Homo sapiens: one gene and its partners. The protein of the gene in region 3 interacts with the protein of the main gene of each other region in a biochemical or structural test. Each region holds a gene or a part of one and is shown on either strand. Other genes may lie near its edges.

What was found.
Region 1: the proteins of SMAD4 (region 3) and DCP1A form a complex in vitro, tested with the Homo sapiens proteins (one study listed by BioGRID).
Region 2: the proteins of SMAD4 (region 3) and TFE3 form a complex in vitro, tested with the Homo sapiens proteins (2 studies listed by BioGRID).
Region 4: the proteins of SMAD4 (region 3) and ZMIZ1 form a complex in vitro, tested with the Homo sapiens proteins (one study listed by BioGRID).

The regions. Positions count from the first base shown.
Region 1 is NC_000003.12:53,337,510-53,344,549, reverse strand, and holds part of DCP1A (mRNA-decapping enzyme 1A), read left to right. Parts: intron 1-2,278; coding exon 2,279-2,406; intron 2,407-6,404; coding exon of another isoform or gene 6,405-6,459; intron 6,460-7,040. UniProt on the Homo sapiens protein: Necessary for the degradation of mRNAs, both in normal mRNA turnover and in nonsense-mediated mRNA decay. Removes the 7-methyl guanine cap structure from mRNA molecules, yielding a 5'-phosphorylated mRNA fragment and 7m-GDP.
Region 2 is NC_000023.11:49,028,217-49,033,388, forward strand, and holds the end of TFE3 (transcription factor E3), read right to left. Parts: intron 4,966-5,172; coding exon of another isoform or gene 4,920-4,965; intron 3,329-4,919; coding exon 3,181-3,328; intron 2,386-3,180; coding exon 1,942-2,385; 3' UTR 510-1,941; downstream 1-509. UniProt on the Homo sapiens protein: Transcription factor that acts as a master regulator of lysosomal biogenesis and immune response.
Region 3 is NC_000018.10:51,082,205-51,085,574, reverse strand, and holds the end of SMAD4 (mothers against decapentaplegic homolog 4), read right to left. Parts: 3' UTR 533-3,370; downstream 1-532. UniProt on the Homo sapiens protein: In muscle physiology, plays a central role in the balance between atrophy and hypertrophy. When recruited by MSTN, promotes atrophy response via phosphorylated SMAD2/4.
Region 4 is NC_000010.11:79,064,687-79,071,985, reverse strand, and holds the start of ZMIZ1 (zinc finger MIZ domain-containing protein 1), read right to left. Parts: upstream 3,021-7,299; 5' UTR 2,716-3,020; intron 1-2,715. UniProt on the Homo sapiens protein: Acts as a transcriptional coactivator. Increases ligand-dependent transcriptional activity of AR and promotes AR sumoylation. The stimulation of AR activity is dependent upon sumoylation.

The DNA of each region.
Region 1 (7,040 bases), on a different chromosome or scaffold from region 3:
AATGTTATTGAGAGGTCGATCCCTCTGTTCTTTCATTACTACATGAGTGGTTGTCTTTTATGACTGGTTCTGTCCTCTTTCCCAACCCACAGAAGTTCTGGATTATGTACAGTGTCTTATTTGAGAGTTCTTTAGAAAGCTTGGATTATTCATGATGGCGTATTTTTTATTTTTGACTTATTCAAAAATTCATTATCTTTAAGATTGGTTTGCAAATTGCAACTTTTTTGTTAGGCAGCTTTTGGGGCCTAAAGACAACTGACAGTATATGATAGTCATGGGGTACTTGTTTTCCTGGATTCCTCTAAGGTCTTAACTCTTACAAGGGCAGGTTCCTTCCCTTGTTTTCTAAAGCTTAGGGAGTCAGCAGGAGTTATTACTGATATCTGGTCTTTTCCCTTTTTTTTTTGTATTGAGTTGCTTCATAAGGATTGCCTTTCTCCATTGATGCCAATTTAAAAGAATTTGTCAAATACTCTTCTAAATTTTGATACAAAGCTTTGAGATCTCGTCTAAATGCACTCATTTTTTTCTTCTTTTAAGTGTAATTCTTTGATATTTGTACACCAAGCTCTTTTTTCTTAGACACTTTCTTTGTTCCCTGCTATTCATCTTTCTGCTTTTAAAAAGGAAGGGATCGGCCGGGTGCAGTGGCTCACGCCTGTAATCCCAGCACTTTGGGAGGCCGAGGTGGGCGGATCACGAGGTCAGGAGATCAAGACCATCCTGGCTAACACGGTGAAACCCTGTCTCTACTAAAAATACAAAAAATTAGCTGGGCATGGTGGCAGGCACCTGTAGTCCCAGCTACTTGAGAGGCTGAGGCAGGAGAATATCGTGAACCCAGGAGGCGGAGCTTGCAGTGAGCCGAGGTCGTGCCACTGCACTCCAGCCTGGGTGACAGAGCGAGACTCCCTCTCATAAAAAATAAATAAATTAATAGGAAAGGATCTTTACCCTCACTCCCTTCATTACTCTTCATTAGCAATATAAATCTCTAGAAACTCTGTTATTAGAACCTTAGTTTCTATGATATTTGGTAAAAGTACTTTACTGGCTTTATTGTTATCATACAGAGGCACTGATTGTAGAAAGTAGGAGATTTAGTGTAGTGGGTGGCTGGATTTAATACAATTCACGGAGGCTTATATGGTACTGATTCTAATTAAAGGAGACGCAAGAAACTGTGTTTGGAAAATGTGAGACTATTTTGCGTACCTTGGATAAAGGTATACCAGGATGTCAGACTGTCACTTTGCAGCTATTACTTCATATAGTAGAAGCTTGGATTTGGAGTCAAAAAACCTGAAACTGAATCCTAGTTATATTATTTGTAACTCATTATTTGTGTGACCTCAGGCACAGGCCTTATCATTCAAAGCTTGTCTCCTAATCTATAGAATAGTGTTCTGTTAACACCCCGGGTATATCGTAGAGAAACAAATGAAAAACGGTGAAGTGTTAGGTACATGTGAAGAGTAAAGGATCATGTACCGAATCCCTCTGATATGGGAACCAAGGATGTTTCCTATTGTAGGATTCAAGGCATTTTCCGTCTAACTCAGGAGCGCTATGTAAATATCTATTTGTTGCAAGAAAAACATTATTGTAATGATGGGCAGCCATTATAGCCAATCCAATTGAATGATATTTCATTCAGCAACTGTGTGTCTATCTTGGGATATATGTATGAAAAAAGTAAGACAAAAGCTCCATTTGCATGGGGCTTACATCCTAGTGGGGGGAGGACAATAAATACTAAAAATAAGTGGTATGGATAAAAGAGGAAGGTTAGAGATATTGAGCTTGGGAGCATTAAAAAGGATAGTTCAAGTAGGCCTCATGAAAAAGGTGACATCTGAACAAAGGCTTGGAGGAGATGAGATAGCTGTGCAGCTTCTGGGGCAGTAATCCAGGAAGAGGTTTTTAGGTAGAAGCACACACGCAGAGAGAGTGGCAAGGAGCCCGGTGTGGCTGGAGAGTAGGAGCTGGAGAAGAGCCATAGGAAATGAAGTCAGAGTGGGGAGTATATCAGGTGGGGCCTTGGTGGCCTCAGTAAGGACTTTGGCCTTTACTCTGAGAGACTGTCTTTGGAGACTTCTCGTCAGAGGAGGAGTATGATCTGACTTAAATTTTTTGTTTACAGATGTAAGTGCTGATAATATTGTATAATGTTCTAATGCATTCTTTTTTGAAATGAAAATAAAGTACATAGTAGATAACATTTCTACAGATTAAATGGTAACTACATATTTTTTTTTCTTCTATTAAATCTAAGGTCAGCTTCCCCTTACCATGGTTTTACCATTGTGAATCGACTAAATATGCACAATCTAGTTGAACCAGTGAATAAAGATTTGGAATTTCAGCTCCATGAACCATTTCTTCTGTATAGAAATGCAAGCTGTGAGTATATCTGTTTTATTATAGTTATTACATTTAAAATTGAGTGACTTTAGTTTCTATCAATCCATTATTTAGGAAGTTTCAAATTACAAAACAAAATATGGTCTCTACTTAATGATTATAAATGAGTCTGTTGGAAAGATCAAACCTTTTAAACTGGGCTCTGAGGCCAGAGGTGGTGGCTCATGCCTGTAATCCCAGCACTTTGGGAGGCCGAGGAGGGCAGATCACTTGAGGTCAGGAGTTCGAGACCAGCCAGGCCAACATGGTGAAACCCCGTATCTACTAAAAATACAGAAAAAAATTAGCCGGGCTTGGTGGCAGGCGCCTGTAATCACTTGAACCTGGGAGGTGGAGGTTGCAGTGAGCTGAGATCGCGCCACTGTACTCCAGCCTGGGCAACAGAATGAGACTGTGTCTCAAAAAAATAAATAAATAAACTGGGCTCTGAAACTGGAAACATTCTTTTGTATATAATTTAGTTTACTATTTCATTTAATAGCACTACATTTCTGTTGTCGGTTTATTAAAATAAGGTTTATGCCTTTGTTTTTTTGCAGCTGTGGACTATCAGCTGCCCATGTCCCTAAGCAACAGAACTTAGTTTGGGACACACAGGATGGGAACAGATACAGATAATTCTTTCCACAAAGAAAGTATTATTATTACTATTATTATTTTCTTTTTTTTGAGACGGAGTCTTGCTCTGTTGCCCAGGCTGGAGTGCAGTGGTGTGATCTAGGCTCATGCAAGCTCTGCCTCCCGGATTCATGCCCTTCTCCTGGCTCGGCCTCCCAAGTAGCTGGGACTACAGGCACCCGCCACCACGCCTGGCTAATTTTTTTGTATTTTTGGTAGAGAAGGGGTTTCACCGTGTTAGCCAGGATGGTCTTGATCTCCTGACCTTGTGATCTGCCTGCCTCGGCCTCCCAAAATGCTGGGATTATAGGCATGAGCCACCACGCCCGGCCAGAAAATATTATTTTTGCCCAGAATAGTGGTGATGGGTTTTTTTTTTTAAGATATTTATTACTTTTTCTACTTTATTTTGTCTGAATATGTTTCTAAGTAAGGTTTTTCTATCTGTTTATTTAATTGAGTGTCTACTGGTTACCAGCACTGAGCCAAGAGCTGTGGTGCTTTAATGTTAACGATACAGTTACCTATGTGGTGTAAGCAGGCAGTTAAGTCAACTGAGACTCAGAGATGCATAACTATTACCCTGTTGGAGAGTTAGGATTATGACTATTCTTCTGCTTTTTAGTCCAGGGTTCTTTCAGGCATTTTTACAATCTCTAATAACGATTGGATGTAGTCAGCAAAGCTAGAGTGGCCCTTCCAAGAAACTACAGTACTAAAAAATATACTTGATTCCAGTGTATTAGTATGGATATTGAAGGTATGGGTGTTTGAGGACAGTTTGTTGGACATTGACTATAGGGATATGAAAACTGGTTATGGTAACAATGATTGTGCTCTAATTGGCATCTAAGGATATAGTTGGAGAAATGTTGCTTCTAACTTAAAAAGTAAAAGTTAATGTGTTTGAATTTCACTTGGCGGGGGGGTAATTGGTCTTGGGGGATGTCTTCAGTATAAAATAGAAAAAGTTACTAAAAATTATACACCTCTTAATTCCCTGAATGAGAAGTAACAAGGCCTATTTTAAAGCTAGAAACCCCCAAGTTCTTTTCCGTAGCACACTTTGAAGTATAAGTGAAATAGGTTCTATCTTTTGACTTCTCAGTAAACTATTTGTCCAGGTAATTACCTCTCAGATTTTAAATTCTGTGGACATATTAGACATGCTTTGTAATAGCTGTAAGTTCAGATGGATTTATTTAAACTAATGTTAACAATGTAATTATTTCAGATTGCTCTTTTCTTTGTACTGAATATTCCATTAAAGGGAAAATTCGGCTGGGCAAAGTGGCTCAACACCTGCAATCCCACGATTTTGGGAGACCGAGGCAAGCAGATTGCTTGAGCCCAGGAGTTTGAGACCAGCCTGGGCAACATGTCAAAACCCCCACTCCACAAAAAAATAGAAAAATTAGCCAGGTGTGGTGTCACACACTTGTAGTCCCAGCTACCCAGGAGGCTGAGGTGGGAAAGTCGCTTGAACCCAGGAGGCTGTCCAGGCTGCAGTGAGCCATGATTGCGCCACTGCACTCCAGCCTGGGCAACAAGCGAGACCCTGACTCAAAAAATGAAAAGAGGGTGGGAGAAATTCTGCAAATGAATATGGATCCAATTTTTTTTTAAGTGAAATAGGCTTAATTCTGTTCTTTACTGCCTGGAAACTTAATCTAGCCATCACTCCTAAGTGGTTTGATTATTAAAGTAGTCAGTAGGGAAAGTTATCCGGACCCAGTTACCATTTAGCATAAACCTGAGATGAATTGTATTATATTTTTTTCACAAGGCAAAAGTCCTGTGAAATTGAAAGTGTGACATAACACAAATGTAATTGAACCATGAGTAACCAGAAGCTAACTAATTAGAGCTTCAGTTGTCTGGAAATATTTTTATAGTTCGTGTGTGGAAGAAATGAAGGCAAATTATAAGAAAACAAGCTAATACTAGGTTTTATTTTCTGAAAATCAAGCAGATATCCAGAGAATAACCTGGGGTCGGCATTAAAATGTCAATATTTTATAACTTTAACTCCACTGTAGTATCATAGGTTAAATTGTTATAGTGAGACCTAAAATCATCAGGAGTATTTATTATGTTAACTAGAACATTCTTGGGGAGAAAGTGCATTAATGCATTTTACTTTAGAAAATTTTCAACTGATTGAAACAAAAGTTTTCTTAGTTGAACAGAAAACTCACTTAACCAGGTCATTTCATTAGGGAAAGTATTTAAAGGAATAGCTGTATTGGGGAGAAGTGATAAGACAACAGAAAATGATTTTGTGAGTGTTAAGCCCTCTCGAGTGTGTGTTTTGTCTACATAGTCTTAAAAGTGGAAAATAGTCTTGTCAGGTCAGCGAGCTATTAAGTTGTTTAGGGATTTGTTCTTTAAATAAAAAGTTAGTATCTGATTATGCATACAGGTAATTATACCTGATTCTATAGCTGCACTTCTGCCATTCTCTTGTGGGAAATACCATCAAGACACCTGACCCATTTAACTCAAGTGACACCTTCATATCCAACTTCTTTCATTCAAATTAATTTTTGGAGTTAATGTACTAGAACAGTGAACCATAACTTTTTTTCAGTTCTAAGTTATTTGTTTTATTTATTTTTAAGAGTTTTTCTTTTTTTTTTTTTTTGAGACGGAGCCTTGCTCTGTCACCCAGGCTGGAGTGCAGTGGCATGATCTTGGCTCACTGCAAGCTCTGCCTCCCAGGTTCACGCCATTCTCCTGCCTCAGCCTCCCGAGTAGCTGGGACTACAGGCGCCCACCACCACGCCCGGCTAATTTTTTCTATTTTTAGTAGAGACGGGGTTTCACCGTGTTAGCTAGGATGGTCTCGATCTCCTGACCTCGTGATCCACCTGCCTTGGCCTTCCAAAGTGCTGGGATTACAGGAGTGAGCCACCGCGCCCAGCCAAGAGTTTTTCTTTATAAAACATGCCCATCTACACCCACCCCACCCCTCAAGAAAAAGATAAAATCTTAAAGAGAAAATTCTTACACTGACTAAGGGCTTAGGCTTGGTGATTCTCTTAAATCTTTGTGGGGTAGTGGTGGTGGTGGTGGTGGTTGTTTTCAAAAGACAAGGTCTCACTGTGTTGCCCAGGCTGGTCTTGAACTCCTGGGCTCAAGCAATTCTCCCGCCTCAGCCTCCCGAAGTGCTAGCATGGGCCACCATGTCCAGCCTCTTGAATCTTTTGGGAACAGTGTATTTTTATTCTGTGCAAGGGCCTTTTGGCAGTCACAAGACCCCAGTGGGATTGCAATGAATTATGGGGAGGTTATAAATTCTGGAGTTATTGAGTAGCAGTGGTATTTCTAGCACCTTATTTCTGATCCTCAACTTACAGGTTGAGAAAACAAGAGGCTCAGAGCTGTTTAGGAATCTGCTCGAGATTCGCAAAGGTAATAAGTGACAGATGGAGAATTTGGGAGTAGGTCTTTCGGGCTTCAAGGCCAATGTTCTTTCCACTCTACTGTAACAATAAAATTACTTCATCAATCCATATTCTAGAGTAGTGCTATCCACTAAAACTTTGCAATTAGGGAAAATGATAGTTCCGTGTCAGCACTGTCCCATATAGTAGCCTGCAATGTGGCTAGGGCAAATGAAGAACACTTCTTTTTAGTTTATTTAATTTAATATATTAGAATTTACATGGCTGTATGTGCTGGCAGCTGCCATACTGGACAGTGGAAGTCTCAGCATGAGCTCATGTGCTAACATGCTCTTTGTTGTGCCATACCTGAATCAAACAACTACTTGGGAAGCTTTGGCTTAGATTTTTATGCGTCCTATTTAGTCATTCCTTTTTGAAACTTACAAATGATTTCTAGATACAAAAGCTGCAGAATATATCCCTGAGGGTGGCTTTGCCATGGTAACATTCTTTTGGCATGGAATTTAGTTTGCAGATAAGAATTCTATTCTGGGCTTTGCCTTACTGACTATAACCTTGGCTAAATCATTTAAACCACTGATTTGA
Region 2 (5,172 bases), on a different chromosome or scaffold from region 3:
TTTGTCTTTGTCCTTTCCACCATCTTAAATACCTCTGTTGTCTGCCAGGAAATATCCTCATAGACTTCTTTATCAGTTTCAAAAGTGGATTTGCAAGAAAAGCTTCTTTCCCCCTCTGCCCTCAGTGGCATTTTTCAATCGAGCCCTCACTCACCTGACTTTACTGTTTTACCGCCTCACCCATTTACAGGCTTGCATATCTTCAGAACAGTTCAATTCTATTCCTCAGCTTCTTCAAAGACCAAATGGAAGTAAGAAGCAGCATGTTCTGACTAACATCCCTTTAGAGAAATAAATTAGATGAAACACTTGCAGCAGTTAAAATTGTGCCTGGTGATTGGTCTTTAAAAATACTGTCTTTTGTTTGCATATTGTCTTCCTCCATGCCCTCTTCCTTTCTAAATTCTTTTATCCATCCTTCTGGAATCTGTTTCTCCCAAGGACTTTTATCCCTCTTGGCCTGCATGGGCTATGTTCACTGCACAGTGTAAAACAAGGACAGGAGACTCTTTGCCAAAGTTAAAAGCGCATCAAACACGCCTAGCTTTTATTATTTTAATCACAAACCTATAGACCCCTCAGTATACCCTCCATGGGGCCTGGCCCCAGCAATCCAAAGCTGACAACCTTGGGTGTAGGTATGAGGGGTGGGAATGGAGGGGGGAGTGTCTCTTGATAACTCTGAAATGGGGTGATTCCTCCAAATGAAGAACTGGGTGGGGAACAGAGGTTGGGGTGGCCTAGATTCTCAGTATGCGGAGCAATAAAAAAATCAGATAAACAAATGAGGGGGTACAATATGCTTTTACAACCCTCCTCCAAGCTTCTGCCTTGCTGGGGGAAGGCTTCCAGTTTTTCCTGGGCTGGGGAGGTCCCAGGATAGCCCCTTCCTTCATCCTCTTGCCCTACATGTTGAAAAAGAATACTGAGGTACTGGTTCTGGTAACCTGAACTCAGTCCCCCACTAATACCCATCACCTTCCCAAACTGCCCCTCAAGGAAGAAGGCAGGACTCTGCCCAAGGGTGGGGGCCTCTCACTCCAGATATAGGTCTGGAAAATTCATCCATGAAATTTCATAATCTGTCCCCTTCCCCAAGAGCAAGGTTGGCTCAGAGCCCTCCTAGGTTAGGTCAGGTTGGTCCCAGGTTAAGGCAGGGGAGCTTAAGTACCACTCCTCCCTGCAGTGTGGAATGCTTAGATGGGATGTTGCTGAGGGACAAGGGTGGGGCTGTGATCTCCACAAGCACTAGCGGTGGCCTGGTCCTACTGATTCTTTCACACCTGAAATACCTGTGCTGGGCTGTTCCTATAGGGAAGGGGTGGGGCCTGGCTCCTCCATTCCTAGAAGGCCAGGAGAGTTCCCAGGGGAAGGGGCTGGGTCTCATCCTCACTTCTGTTCCTTGCCTGGGCAGAGCAGGGCAGGGTTCATGGGGAAGGGGCAGAGCTTAAACCCCCAGGGCTGGGACCTCCATTACTTGACTCCTCTTCTGTGCCAGGACGGACTAGACTGGTGGTTCCAAGACAAAGGATGGAGCAACATCCTGACATCTCCCTTTCCCAGGAGACCTGGCTAGGACAGTCCCTAGGGGACAGGGTCGAGACCTCATCCTGTCTCCTTCCCTCACCTGGGCAAGGATGAGTCCCACAGGGGCAGGGGTGAGGCTGTGATCCCCAGGGGGCAGGCCCTGATCTCATGTCCTTCTCCAGCCTTCTCCTTCTGAAATACCTGCACTGGGCGGTTCCTTTGGGGAAGGTGCAGGGCCTCATCTGACTCCTCCTCCTTGCCTGATTACAGGGGTGGGGCCTGATCACATCTCCTCTTCCCCCAGGATACCTGGGCAGGGCAGTCTCATGGGAGGGTGGGGGAAAAGGCGGGGCCTCATCCTGACTGGTCCTCCTTTCCTGGGTGGGAAAGTCCCAGGGGAGGGGTGAGGCCTGATCAGGACTCCTCTTCCATGCTGAAGCTGCTGCGGCGGCTGCTGGCCTTGGAGACAGCAGGGGACACTGAAGAGAGCAGGGGATCGGAGGCAGCCCGCAGTGGGGACAGGGCACCCCCCGACAGTCCTCCCACCACCCCCTCCTCCTCCTCCATCAGAATGTCCTCCAGCCCCAGGTGGAAGGGGTCTCCCAGGTCCCCCAGGTGGTCGCTGGGAAAGTGCAGGTCCAGAAGGGCATCTGAGGGCGGTGCAGGGGGCTGCTGATGGGGAGCATTCTGGGCAGGTCCCCCCCCTACATGGAACGTTGCTGCGCCTGGCCTGCCCTCCTCCTCAATGTCCAGCTGCTCTGGCTTGAGGCTGTCAGAAGCCGAAGTCGTGGCCAAGGAAAGCAGCCCTGGAGTGGGAGGTACTGGCAGGCCATGGATCTGGGCCTGCAGTTCTAGTTCCTGTAAAAAATAGGGGTTGGGTGCAGGATAAGTAGGGTTCAGAGTCCCTCAGAGGCAGAGGAGTATAAAGGTTGAAAAGGGTAGGTTCCCTGGGTTGGAATTCAGCTTCTGCTACTCACTAGTTCCAAAACTTTAGGCAAGGTGCTTAACATCTCTGAAGCTTCAGAGTCGCAAACTGTAAAGTGGGTATATAATAATGGCCCCTAGGCTGGGCGCGGTGGCTCACGCCTGTAATCACTTTGGGAGGCCGAGGCAGGTGGATCACCTGAGGTCAGGAGTTCGAGACCAGCTTGACCAACATGGAGAAACCCCATCTCTACTAAAAATACAAAAATTAGCTGGGTGTGGTGGTGCATGCCTATAATCCTAGCTACTCAGGAGGCTGAGACAGGAGAATTGCTTGAACCCGGGAGGCGGAGGTTGCGGTGAGCCGAGATTGCGCCATTGCACTCCAGCCTGGGCAACGAGCGAAACTCCATCTCAAAAATAAATAAATAAATAAATAAAATAATGGCCCCTATCTCATAGAATTCTGAGGATTGAATAAGTTAGTGGATATAAAGCTCTTGTCACAGTACAGAGCACAAGATAAATGCTATGTACATTAGCAATATTATTATCCTTGTTAATATTATGATTATTATTTATCATTATCACTATCATCATCGTGTGATCTGGGAAGCCCAGGGATCCCCCAAGTATGCCAGGAAGGGAAACCCTGGCCTGCTCTCTCTCTGCCTCCACCTGCAGGAAGCTCTCCCCCTCTTCCCCCACCACCATCTCCTCTTTTCAAACCTGAATTCGGAGCTGCAGGCTGCGGTTGGCCTGCTCCAGGGATCGCTGCCGGCTCTCCAGGTCTTTGGAGCGCTGCTGCTCCTTCTGCAGCTTGCGGATATAATCCACAGAGGCCTTCAGGATGGTGCCCTTGTTCCAGCGCATCTCCCTGTGGGGCCCAAGTGGGAGGCAAGCAGGAAATGCCACATGAGGAGTTTCTCAGGAGCTGAGGCGGGGATTGCACCAGGTGGGAGCCTCCCACCACATGCTTAGAACTTGAGGCTGGGGTCTTTCAAAGGTATGGAGTATCCAGAGGAAAACTTCCCGCCTGGAATCTTACAATGGTGCCCCATCACACTCCAAACCCTGGAAGCCGTCTCTGACCTGACCCCTTAGGATTCCTCTCTTCCCTATGTCCCTCCGATTGATCTCACTACAGCCACATTGGTCTCTCAGTGCTCCTAGAATATGGAAAACCACTCCCATCTCAGGGCATCAATCCCAGCCGTGCCCTCTGCCTTGAATACTCTTACCCCCAGACACCCATGCGGCTCCCCGCCTTGCCTCCTTAGGCTCTTTATTCAAACGTTTCCTTGTCAGTTGGGGCCTGCCCTGTCCTCACCTTCCTTATCCCAAACTAACCCTCCCCAACATTCTCCCATTTTCCTTCCAGTCTTTATTCTTCTCATAACACTCATCATAATGGATCTCATGGATGTTTACTTATTTACTATTTGTCTGCCCCCACTAAAACATCAGTTTCATGAGGTCTGTTTTGTTCCCTCTGGTATCTTTAGGGCCTAATATGGTACCTGGCACAAACCAGAGGTTCAAAAAATAAATCTTTCTCTTTTCCTTTTTTTTTGCGGGGCGGTGGGGGATGGAGTCTCGCTCTGTCACCCAGGCTGGAGAGCAGTGGCACAATCTTGGCTCACTACAACCTCCACTTCTCAGGTTCAAGCGATTCTCCTGCCTCAGCCTTCTGAGTAGCTGAGATGACAGGCCTACGCCACCACGCCCAGCTAATTTTTTTTGTATTTTTTGTAGAGATGGGGTTTCACCATGTTGGCCAGGCTGGTCTCAAACTCCTGACCTCAGGTGATCCACCCGTCTCGGCCTCCCCAAGTGCTGGGATTACAGGTGCCCACCACCACGCCCCGCTAATTTTTATATTTTTAATAGAAATGGGGTTTCACCATGTTGGCCAGAATGGTCTCAATCTCCTGACCTTGTGATCCACCCGCCTCGGCCTCCCAAAGTGCTGGGATTACAGGCGTGAGCCACTGCACCCGGCCATCTTTTTTTTTTTTTGTTTTTGAGACAAAGTCTTGCTCTGTCACCCAGGCTGGAGTGCAGTGGCACCATATTGGCTCACTGCAACCTCCACCTCCCGGGTTCAAGTGATTCTCCTGCCTCAGCATCCCGAGTAGCGGGGATTACAGGTGCGTGCCACCACGCCCAGCTAAATTTTTTTTATTTTTAGTGGAGACAGGGTTTCACCATGTTGGCCTTCACCTCCTGACCTCGTGATCCGCCTGCCTTGGCCTCCCAAAGTGCCAGGATTACAAGTGTGAGCCACTGCACCTGGCTAATTTTTGTATTTTTTAGTAGAGACGGGGTTTCATCATGTTGGCCAGGCTAGTCTGAAACTCCTGACCTTAGGTGATCGACCCCGCCTTGGCCTCCCAAAGTGCTGGGATTACAGGCATGAGCCACCACACCCGGCCAATAAATAAATCTTGAATAAATAAAGGAAGTACCATTGCACCACTGCACTCCAGCCTGGGTGACAGCGTGAGACTCCATCTCAAAAAAAAGAAAAAAAAAAAGGAAGTACTAAGTGAACAGAAAAGTAGGTGCATATATCCTACGGGGACCAGATGGGGCACACAGACCATAACATTATGTGCCTAAAATTTTAGGTGCTGACATAGTGAGGGTCTGCAACCCTGCTCAGGCTGAGAAAGAACCAGACAGAGGAGAAATGCCTGGGCCGAGACTGCCTGGTGAGCC
Region 3 (3,370 bases):
GCCTAAAATACTATAAATTTCAGGTTAGCAAACAGGTGAGAAGAAATCTCTCAGCCCGATAAACTCTCTGAAACTCATGTCAGCAAGCTTAGAAATAAAATGCTGATGTGGTCTTGTTATATACAAGCCATTGCCACGGAATCTACTTACCTGACCACCACTCCCCTCCCATTGACCCCTATTTCACAGAGAAGGCAGATGGGAGAGAAACAGCTTTCCTTATCCCTTAGCTGGGCAATGAAAGGGTCTCCAATTTCCAATTTTACCTCTCCTTTAAGCATCCTGGTTCTTATAATTCCCTAGCACCCATCTCTCTGATCACCATCACTTCACCTTCTCCTTTTAAAAATGAGAGAAGAATGGGGACTGTTATTCCAGGGTCATATTTTAAATGTCACATTTCCCATTTCAGTGGCCACAAGGCAATAAAGGAAAATGTTGACCTAAAGTTTGAAAATTCTCTAAGTGATCAGAAACCCTTTCCAGATCCAAGACATCCACAAGCTTAAGAAAAAGAATGAGCACATAATGATTTAGTTGGCTTTCTCTTTTAATCAAAAACATACTTTGTTACAGAGTTCTCAAGAAAGGTTCGACTATTTTTTAGCCACAGACTTTAACCAGGCAAAAGTATACAGAAAGCCACAAAGGAACTCCTGGGACTTTCAACTGACCAGTTGTCCCCAAAGCAGAAGCTACGAGTGGCTCTTCTCTGGCTTCTGGCATAGCTGCATTCCTCTGAATTTAGGGGAGGAAACAGTTGGGAAATACCACCACCAAATCTGTCCCCAACCCCCAACTCACTTCTTCTAAACTGGGCTCTGCAGCCCACCAGGTTTTCATCATCTATAAGCATTCACACTTTTCCCTTAAATCACATGTCCAATGCATTGAACAGAACTCAATACTTGAAGAAAGTTTGCCAACTCCATGTTTAGTCTTAATCAATCCAAGCCCGTGAGTCCTTCTATCAATGACAAGCAGCCTTTGCAACAGCAGCTGGTTTCATCCCTTCCTCTCCAGCTACCACAAAGCTGGCCTCTACCAGGACTCCCCAACCCCCCACCCTCAACCCAGCCCCAAGGAAGGCTCCCAGGTCCTTGAAAATATGAATTTCATTAATTGTACTCATCCAAGGGTAGGCTAGAAGAGAGCTCTGAATGATCCAGCCAAAAGTCACTTAATCAAAATGGACCTAAAAAGAGCCAAGAATAAAGTTAATAATCATCTACTGGTATTGTTTTCTTGAGTCATATAAACCAGTTTAATTGACACGGTTCAAGGGAATTTCCTTGTTTTGAGCATAATATCACTAAGCATTAACAACAGGTTTTCAATCCATTTTCACTGAAAAAAAAAATTACAAGCACACACCACTTAGGAGGGTGGTGTCACACACACCAACTCAAAAGCTATAATGTCATGACTCGAAAGCCTTAATAAACTCTGACCAGAGTGTGTGCGTGCGTGTGTGTGTGCACGCAATTCAAAAGCTAGAATGTCATGACTCGAAAGCCTTAAACTCTGACCTGTGTGTGTGTGTGTGTGTGTGTGTGTGTGTGCGCGCGCGCGTGCGCACGCGCGTTAAGTGTTTATTGCAGCCCCTAAGGTGGTGCTAGGCCTTTGGTTAAAATTAAGTCTTAAGGGCATACTATGTAACCTTTTGTCCATAAAAGAACAGTAATAAAATATCAAGCCTAGTCTCCTTTGAATAACATGGAAATAAGTAAAAAGCCCCCTCAAACAGCAGAACAAAGATAAGGAAGAAATCCAAAACTGCTGCAAGGTAGCCAAGGTCACTTAGAATTTCAGAGCTGGAATAATTAATCTACTCCAACTCCCTCATTTTACAGATGAGGCAACTAAGGCCCAGAGAAGATAAATGACTTGCCCAAAGGTCACACATCAAATTTGTGGCAGAGGGCAAACTAGAGAGTGCAACTGTCTGGCCCAACCCAGAGCCATTACTTTCAGGTTGAACAAGAACACTGGCTCTGGACCTATTGAGAAAGCATTTAAATAAACGGTGTGAAAAGTATCCACATCAACAGAGAGAAATGATTGTCTTCACCAAAGGTTTTCCTTAGTCCTTACTACATTAGAAAAAAAAAAACAGAAAAAAAAAGGACAAAAAGTTTCATTCATTCATTCCAGTCTGATGTTAAAATCCCTGAAAACACTAGCAATTACTTTAGCTACTCCTTGGGGCAGGATGTCAGACCCTCAATTCTCATAAAGGCACCTATAGGTCAAAAATATCTGTACAGGAGTAAGGCCAGAAGGCAGGGCTTCAAAGGGGACACCAAAACAAAACAAATGGCCTTAGTTTCCCAAGGTTTGTTTTGCTTTGTTGTGTGTTGTTTGCTGGTGTCCTCCAGACAACGGTATTGCCTCTGGCTACTGATGCTAATTTAGTAACCCTTGTAACCCCAGTTTTTGTAAGAGCAGCATTCAAGTGGAAGCAATGAAACCTTTCAAAATATTATTCTAAGGGGGAAAATATGAATATGACTCACTTCTCTCTATCTCAACTACCTGAAACTCAGCAAGAATCAGGAAGCACTCTAAGCTACATCAAACTGATATCAAATGCCAATACAATGAGGTCTTTTTCAGCACTTCACAGGAAAGTGTCTTGGGTCCTGTCCCAGAGTTTGTACTTGTGTTTTAAAGAACGTTCTAGTAAGTTTGGTTATCTGGTTTCCTTGCCTAGGCAGTCAGAAATGAAGAATCAGAAAGAGAAGAAGAAAATGCTAAAAGGAGGCACACTAACACTCACATATGAATGGTAATTATCAGAGAGGGAAGAGACCAGGAGGGGAAGTGGGTTAAAAAAAAAAAACTAAAAATTCAAAACCATAGCTGTCTCAGACCATTTAGTAAAGGCAACACAGTCCTGTCTGTTTTAGAAGCCCCTGAAGTCCACAAAGATAGCCAAGCACAGAAAGAAATGTTACCATCTAGTATATCCTCTGATATACATATTAAATAACTCCACCAAAAAAAGGCTAAAAATTAAAACGTTTTACTTCTTAAATAAGGCAATTCTGGATGATGTGGAAAATTTCACTCCACAGTGATTCCAGATAAACAAGATAAGCAACCTAGCAGCACTGGGACAACTGCTAGGGATAAGGCTGGGCCTAGGATGCCACTTTGTGGATGAATAAGGCCATGGACTTTTTACATACTTCTTGGTATGTTCAAAGAAATTACTTAGTTATCAGGGAAAAAAATGGAAAGGCTTGAACAAGATTGTCATAGCCTATTCTCTGTAGTCTTTGCAAAAGAGGATATGAGATTATTTAGATAGCTATCTGCAACAAGATGGATTCTGCCTTTACGGGAAAAAAAAATGCATTACTTTAAG
Region 4 (7,299 bases), on a different chromosome or scaffold from region 3:
CCCCACCCAGCCCCCACCCCCAGTCACTGCCACCAACTCTCAGAAGTCTAAACTTTTGAGATTTACATGTGAAAACAGCGTTTCAAAACCTCGTGATTTGGGACAAGGAGACGCTTCTGTCCTTTGGGGGAAAACAAAACCCAACCGAAAATCATAAAGCTCAGAAGAAAACACCATCTCCCTCCAAATGCATTCCCTGGGCCCCCAACTCACACGTGCTCTGTAGCAGATAGGGCTTTCAATGTGTCTTTTGTTTGATGCTGATGTTTCAACATCCTCGACTTGAAGAGGGAAAGGTCAGCCCAAGGCTTGGGGTATTCACAAACCCACCCGGCCCCTGCACTGGGGCCAGGAGCCAGCAAGTGAGGGGCCAGGAATTTCCCCCACTCTGGACCCCCTCACAAAGCAGCCGGGGCTGAGAAGGCTAAGAAAGAGCTTGCTCTCTCATCTCAACTTCCCCGATAGCTCAACAGCAGCTTCACACTCCCGGGACCGTACAAGCGCCAGCGAACGCAGGCTGGAATTCACCAGCGCCAAGCTGCCCGGCTCTCCAGCCCCGGCGCCTGCCTCTTTATCTGTACCTTCAAAAACAGTAATAAGCAAACCCAGGCACCTCTGGGAACAGCCTCTGGCCTCCTGCCCTGCCCTGTGTAACCAGCCTGTCCTCACACCCACCAGGGAGGAGGAGTCGGCACTGGTTAACCCTCTGGTCTACCAGGCCCGGTTCCCAGGTTGCAGCAGGGAGACAAACTGTTGCTCAAGAAAATCCTTCAGAAAACCCTTGGCACCAGGAGGCAGCTCGGAGCGGCTCTGCACCCGGCGCGGAGCCAGGGGCTTCCACAGGCGGCCGCCCACTGCCCTTTTAAATCTTTGGGGCTGGGCCCTACTCTCCCATGCCCTGGGCTGTCCACCCAGAGGGCTCCAAATGTCCGTGGCAGAGCAGAGAGGAGGGAAAGGCTGGCCGAGCCGTGCCCTCACCCCGCCAGCCCAGCCGCCAGCTTCTTGGAGGACCTCTGAGAGAACATTTGTTTGGGCTGCCAAGTTAAATCTTCCTCCCTCATGTCAGGGCATTGGAAAAGCAGTCAGGGGAGAGGAGAAGGGGGAGAGCGCGCGGGGGAAGGAGCAGCGGGAGGGAGGGAGGGAGGGAGGCAGGCGGGCAGGCTCAAAGCCCCAGTTACTCGGGCACTGCCTACCCAGGAAGCTGACGGCTCCCGGGCAGGCGCAGCCGGGGCTCCGGGCACCGAAGCAGGGACCCGGCCGTCAGGCCTCCCCGGTCAGGCAAGGGTACCAAGCACCCTTGGCCCACCTGGGAGCGGCCCTCGCTCTGTGACCTGCTGGAGGGACGAGGTGGGAAGGGAAGGCAGAGAAGGAAAAAGTTTGCTGCAGGTAGAGGGGTAGGGCTGGGCGGCAGTGCCGACCGGCTGTCCCCGGGGAGGGGTGGGGGGCCCGGACCGGCTGCCCTGGCGCGCTCCCGTCCGCCCGCCCTCCCGCCCGGGTTGTTTACATTCCTGGAGTGTCTTTTAAACCCGGGGCTGAGGCCGGCTCCCGGCCTTCTCCGGCGGCTCCGGGGCAGTCTCCCGTGAAAATCTGCTGGCGCACAATGGCCGGGAAGGCGGCCGCCCCTCGCCCGCGCCCCCACCGCTCCAGGGCGGGGAGCCTGCCCTCCGCACCGCGCCCTATCCCCGCCCGGCCGGCTTCCTGGACAGATGTCCCCAGCGAGGGGGCGACGCGCGCCCGCTGCCCGCGCCCTAGACGCCGAGGCCGCGCTCCCCACTGTTTTTTCCCCAGCCCAGACGCCAGGAATGTGAAGCAAGCTTCCAGAACCCGCCTCCCCCCCCCGACCCCGGCTCCAGCCCCGGCCCCCCAACCTCCGCCCCGGCTGGCCTCCCACTCCCCCGGGGCCACCGCCGCCGGAGACGGAGAGGAAGAAAGAACACGGGGAAATTACTTTCGTATTTGCAACGCGCGCGCGCACACACACGCACATCTTCCCCCTGGGCTCCCCTCCTGGCCGGGGCAGCCCCGTCCAGGCACTGGCCTGAGCGCCCCTCTGGCTTGCGAAGCCCTGGGAGAAAACCCTGCACACACACCTCCGCGTTTCTCGTTTGTACCGCGCGCCAGCTTTCCCCGGGCAATTCCCACACAAACAACTTAACCGCGCCCCCACCTCCCATTTACAAAAGTGTATGTTTTCCCTGGAAATTCAGACGCACAAGTTAACACCACCACCCCTTGCCATCCTGAAATCCAGCGCTTTCCCCAGCGGTTCCTGTACACACACAGGCGCACAACTTCGCATCTCCCCAGAGGAGGCGAAGGAGACCGAGGCGGTCCTTCCCTCCCTCCTCCGATTCCCGGTCCTGCCCGGCCCCCGGGTGTAGGGAGCGAGGGCTGGAGGCGCGCCGGCAGGAGGCGGGCACCGGGTCCGCGCGCGCACGACCACACTTACGCCCCGCACACCCTGACAAACCCGGCCCCCACGCGCAGCCCAAGCCGGCTCCGCGCAGCCGGGAGCTCGCCGGCCGCCGGGCCTCGGCCCCCGGCCGCCAAGGAGAGCGGAGCGGAGCCCGCGCCGCCGGCCGGTCGCCCCGCTCCGGGGGACACTTTAAGGGAAAAACCCCAGCACCCAATCCCCACGCTTGCACCCCGAGAGTCCCCGGGGAGCGGGAGGTAGCCCCGGAGCCAGCGGGCGCCTGGCTCTGGCCCCAAACTTACCGGGCGCTGCGAGCGCCGCTGCCGCCGCTGGAGGACGCGCCGCCGCCACCGCCGGGTAGGGCAGGCTCGGGCCGGGAGGAGCGCAGCGAGGGCGCCGAGATCCGCTCGGCTCCGGCTCCTGCTCCGCGCCGGCTGGGGCTGGGGTCACCGCGCTGCGCCGGCGTTGCTCGCTCGCTCGGCCGCCCGATCGCTGCTCGCCCGCCTGCCGCCCGGCCGCCCGCTCTCCCCGGCGCCCGCCGCCGCCGCTCGCTTTTTTAATGTCCACAGACAGTGAAAAGGAACTCGGCGTTAGGGGGTGAGTAAGTGAATCAACTCGCCCGGAGCCGAGCAAGTTGAAGTGTCAGATTACATTGGCTATTCTATTTCCAAAGGGCCCCGCGCCGCCGGCCGCCCGCAAAAGCCGGTGCGGAGTCAGGCCGGAGTGGAGCGCCGCGCCGCGCCGCCGCCGCTGCCGGCGCTCGGCTTGGCTCGCGCTCTGCGCTCTCTTTCCCCTTTCCTTTTCGCCTCTCCTCGTTCTCTCCCTCGCCTTTCCTTTCCTTTCTCTTCCTCTCTTCCTCGCTCCTCGGTCTCGGCGCTCTCCCAGCTTTTCTTCTCCTGGCTCCTGGTTCCCCGCTACGCCACCAGTCCACTCACCTCTCTCCTTGCCCTACTCCCTCCGCTACTCCCTGACGCCCCCTGCAGCCCCCAGCCCCCCTGCAGGCCCCAGCCCCAGTAAGTTTGGAGAGGGGAACAAATGCTGAGCCTAGGTAGGGACCACCTTGGGGAGGAAGCCAAAATCACACTGCTCACCCGAGAGCCCCTGCCCCGCGCTGGCACGCCCCCGCCTGGAGTGCACTCGTGGCCCCGGGCGCTGTCAGGTACCCGAATTGGGGTAAGCGAGTTGGTAACTGGACCTCCAAAGCCTTCCCCTGGGGTTGACTTTGGAATTGTTCCTACAGCCCGGGGACTGGTGGTTGGGGTGGGAAGAGGACCACCACCACCAAGGGTGACTTTGAGGGAGACTAGAGCGCGGCCCCCCGACAGCTGTGGGGGAGCGGGGGTGTGGTGGCCACAGTTGATCCGCGGCACCTAGCACAGTCCAGAGACGCGTGGATTCCCCTAGGCCCGGCGCGGAGCGCCCGGGGCGCTGTGCGCGCGGGCTGCGTGGGAGCTGCTAGGCTGGGGCCTGGCCCTCTGCCCCGGACTGGGCACTGCCAGAGATAGCGGAGAGCTAAGGTACTCACGAGGCGCAGTTGGGTGCACCCACTCGCGGGAGTTCCCCTAGCCGACCCACCCCCCCCCCCCGAGAGCATCCAACTACGCGCCCACTTTGGCTCACGTCCACTGCCACTCTCACGGAAACTCCTACAAGAACGGCACACACGTTCGCTCCCTCAGCATTGCAAACACGCTCCCCCCCAAACCACAAACGCGCCCCCACACACTCGCTTACTTTCCCTCACAAAGATGCCCGCTTACACGGCCACAGCAGGCACGCTCAGAGACACGCAGTTACACACACACATCGCTGTACACAACCCCACATACAATCAAAAAACAAAACACGAAACGTTCCCCTGGGCACTAAATCCTCACGTTAACGTACACACACAAACACACGCCCTCCTCTCCCACTTCCTCTTCCATACCCCTTCCTCGAGGCCCCCCACCCCTGATTTTCGGCACCCCCAGTCCCAATCATAATTGGCGCCCGCGCAGCCCTCTTTGGACACACACGCGCCGCCCACGCACGCGCTCCCCTCCCCGGCAGGCGGGGGCGGCTTCGGCCGGGAGCCGGCGGAGCCCGCTTCGGATTCCAGGTGTGGCAGTGACTCCGCGCTCCACGTTTTGCAGGCTGCCACCGTGTCGGAGGCGAGGCGAGGAAGGGAGCTGGAATAACAAAGGCAAGTTGGGGAGAGCGCAAGGGGGCGCAGCCCCGGCCGGGCTGCGGGGGGAGCCTTGCACGGCCGGGGCTTCGGAGGCTGCAGGGTCGGGGGCGCGGGGAGCCGGAGGTGGGGGAGGAAGGGTGGGGGGAGAGGGGCGGGGCTGAGGCGTGACGTCAGAGAACAATGACACCGCCGGGGGGCGGGCACCCGGAGGCGGCCCAGGCGGGGGTCTCCCCCGGGGCCTGGGGCGGGCCGAAGATGTCCAGGCCTGGCCGGAGCCGCCTCCTGATTGACGAGGCCCGCATGGGAGTGCGGACGTGCAGCACAGATTTGCGGGTCTCCTGGGCCTCTTGGGCGGTGATCAGCGCGGACCTTGGGCCAACCGGGGAAGCAGGCCGGAGCACTACCCCCCACCCCCATTTTAGAACATCCTTCTGAGGGCTTCGCTGACCTCGGCTTGAACTCCTTCAGAGCCGGAGAGATCACTCCTTCCACCACCGAGGGAGAGGAGGCAAAATGAATTTGCCAGCTTTGAATTCATTCTCAAGGCTCCGCTAGTCTCACAGCCAGTGAACTCAGTCTGGAATTCCTGAAAGCTCAGAAAACTGCTGCTTAGGTCCACCCGGGCGTGGGGGACGGGGTGTGTGGGGGCGCAGGCGGCGGAGTGGGGGCGTTATTTTATTTTCCCCAGGGGAAATTCTGCCTCCCTATGCCATTGGGTGCAAGAAAAGGCACTCCTTTGGGGCCTCAGTCTTCCTACCTGTCACATGGACATGGACTGTGATGACTGCTGCTCTTCCACCCCCGCCCTCCCTGTAGGTGGCAGCTGAGCATCCCTGGAGAGGGTGGGTGGTATGAAAGCACTTCCAGACCTCTAGGGACACCAGGGAGTCATGGTCCCAGCACATTGCTGTGTGATTGAGCCCCTCCTCAGCCTGTGGGTGGCCTAAGTTCACAGGTAGGTACACCAGGGCCACCTGAGAAACCTCCGAAGGTAGGAATTAAGCTTGCAGAACGGTGGCTGCAGCCACAGCTGTCCCACTCCCAGCAATCCACAGCATTGCAGCAGTGGCAGCAGCCACCCCATACCCAGGTCCAAAATCCCAAAAGAGAGTTTCTGGGTATTTAAGGATTTGGGATGTGATAATCCAGCCCAGCCCACAATTAGACCAGTTCTTGTTGCCTTAATGACCAGCTAGGTCTGGACGCCCAGCCCTCTCAACCTTTCTGTCCAGATTCCTCAATAAGTATCCAGGGCCTGCCCACTTCCAGGAATTGGGGGATGCAGGTGACCTCGGAGGTGACCACTCATGTTCAAAGTCTCCTGTCCAGAAGCTCCACCCCCTACCCCACATCCCAGCCCCCTACTCTCCCACCAGTATTTACATCTGAAACCCAGGAAGTGGCTGCAGAGGGCAGAGGAGCCAAGTAGGCTCAACTTAGTAGCATGGAACCAGGGATCATTTCAACCCTCCCCTTCTGTGCAAGCATGGCAGCAAGTCAGAAAGCCCACCAGGGTCCTGGGTCTTCCCTAGGCTCCAGTCCTTGGGTCTCTGAGGCCCTTGCTCTCTTTGTTCATCTTCCAGGGAGGTAATGGGGTAGATTGGATACCTCTGGGGTCTTGGAAGAAGCTATGACTTATTTACTGTCTACTATGTGGTGAGTACTGTGGTGGGTCCTCCTAGGTATTGAGAATTCAGTTCCCTGATTGAACTGTCACATTGTCTTAAGTTAGGTGCCGCTACCATCCCCCTTTCAGAGGAAACTCAACTGTGAATGACTTGCCCAAGATTGGTCAGGATGGGAACTCGGGCCCCCATGAACAGAGTTTCCTGTTGTCCCCTCAGCCCTGGCTCTGTTCATCCATAGACTGTGTAGCCCCAAGCAAGCTGCTTTCCCCCTCTGAGCCCCTGTAAGGTCCATGGTGCCATCAGGACTCACTGGGAACTGTGTGTCCAACAACCTCACCCCCAAAGTCTCAGCCTCACTGGGCCTGGAGATCTGCTGGTGAGACAAGAGAGGACAGTGCCATCACTTCCTCGTGGCCCAGAGCTGGAAGATGCATCCTGCTCAGCCCCTGCAGGCCCAGAAGTCACCTGGCTCCACTAGGAGGGCATGGGCAGTGTGGGGCCGCCAGGTTGTACCAACCTTCAGAGCACACTCAAGTGCTGTTAATTTCCCTGTCCTGTGGGAGCCACCAGCAGATTGGGGAGAGGACCATTGCTGGGGCCTGGGCCCAGGTTTCAGGAGGCAGAAAATCTGGAGGCCAGCAGGATGGTGGGGGTGGGAGGCTTGAGGTCCCTGAGGGAAGCAAAGGACTTGTGTAGGGTGCGGCGAGTATGGCCTCCTAGGCTGGGCTGGGATGGGGGCGGGTACACAGTGGGGATTCCCACCTGTCCAGGAGCTGCCTTCTCTGTCCCCACTCTCCACCTCTCACTTCTGGAACTTAAGGGAGCCAGGGAACATCTAAAATTGAGACTAGAGAGGTGGGAAGAAAATCTCATTCATTGAGTACTTACTGTATGCCACGCACTTTGGAAACATTCGTTGTATTCTCTCCACAAGCCAGGTGTCATTCCCTGCTAAGGGAAGAGGCTCAGAGAGGTTAAGTGACCTGCTCAAGATCTCATAGCTGGCTGAGCATGGTGGCTCATGCCTGTAATCTGTGCACTTTAGGAGGCCAAGGCAGGGTAGATCACTTGAGCTCAGGAGTTCGAGA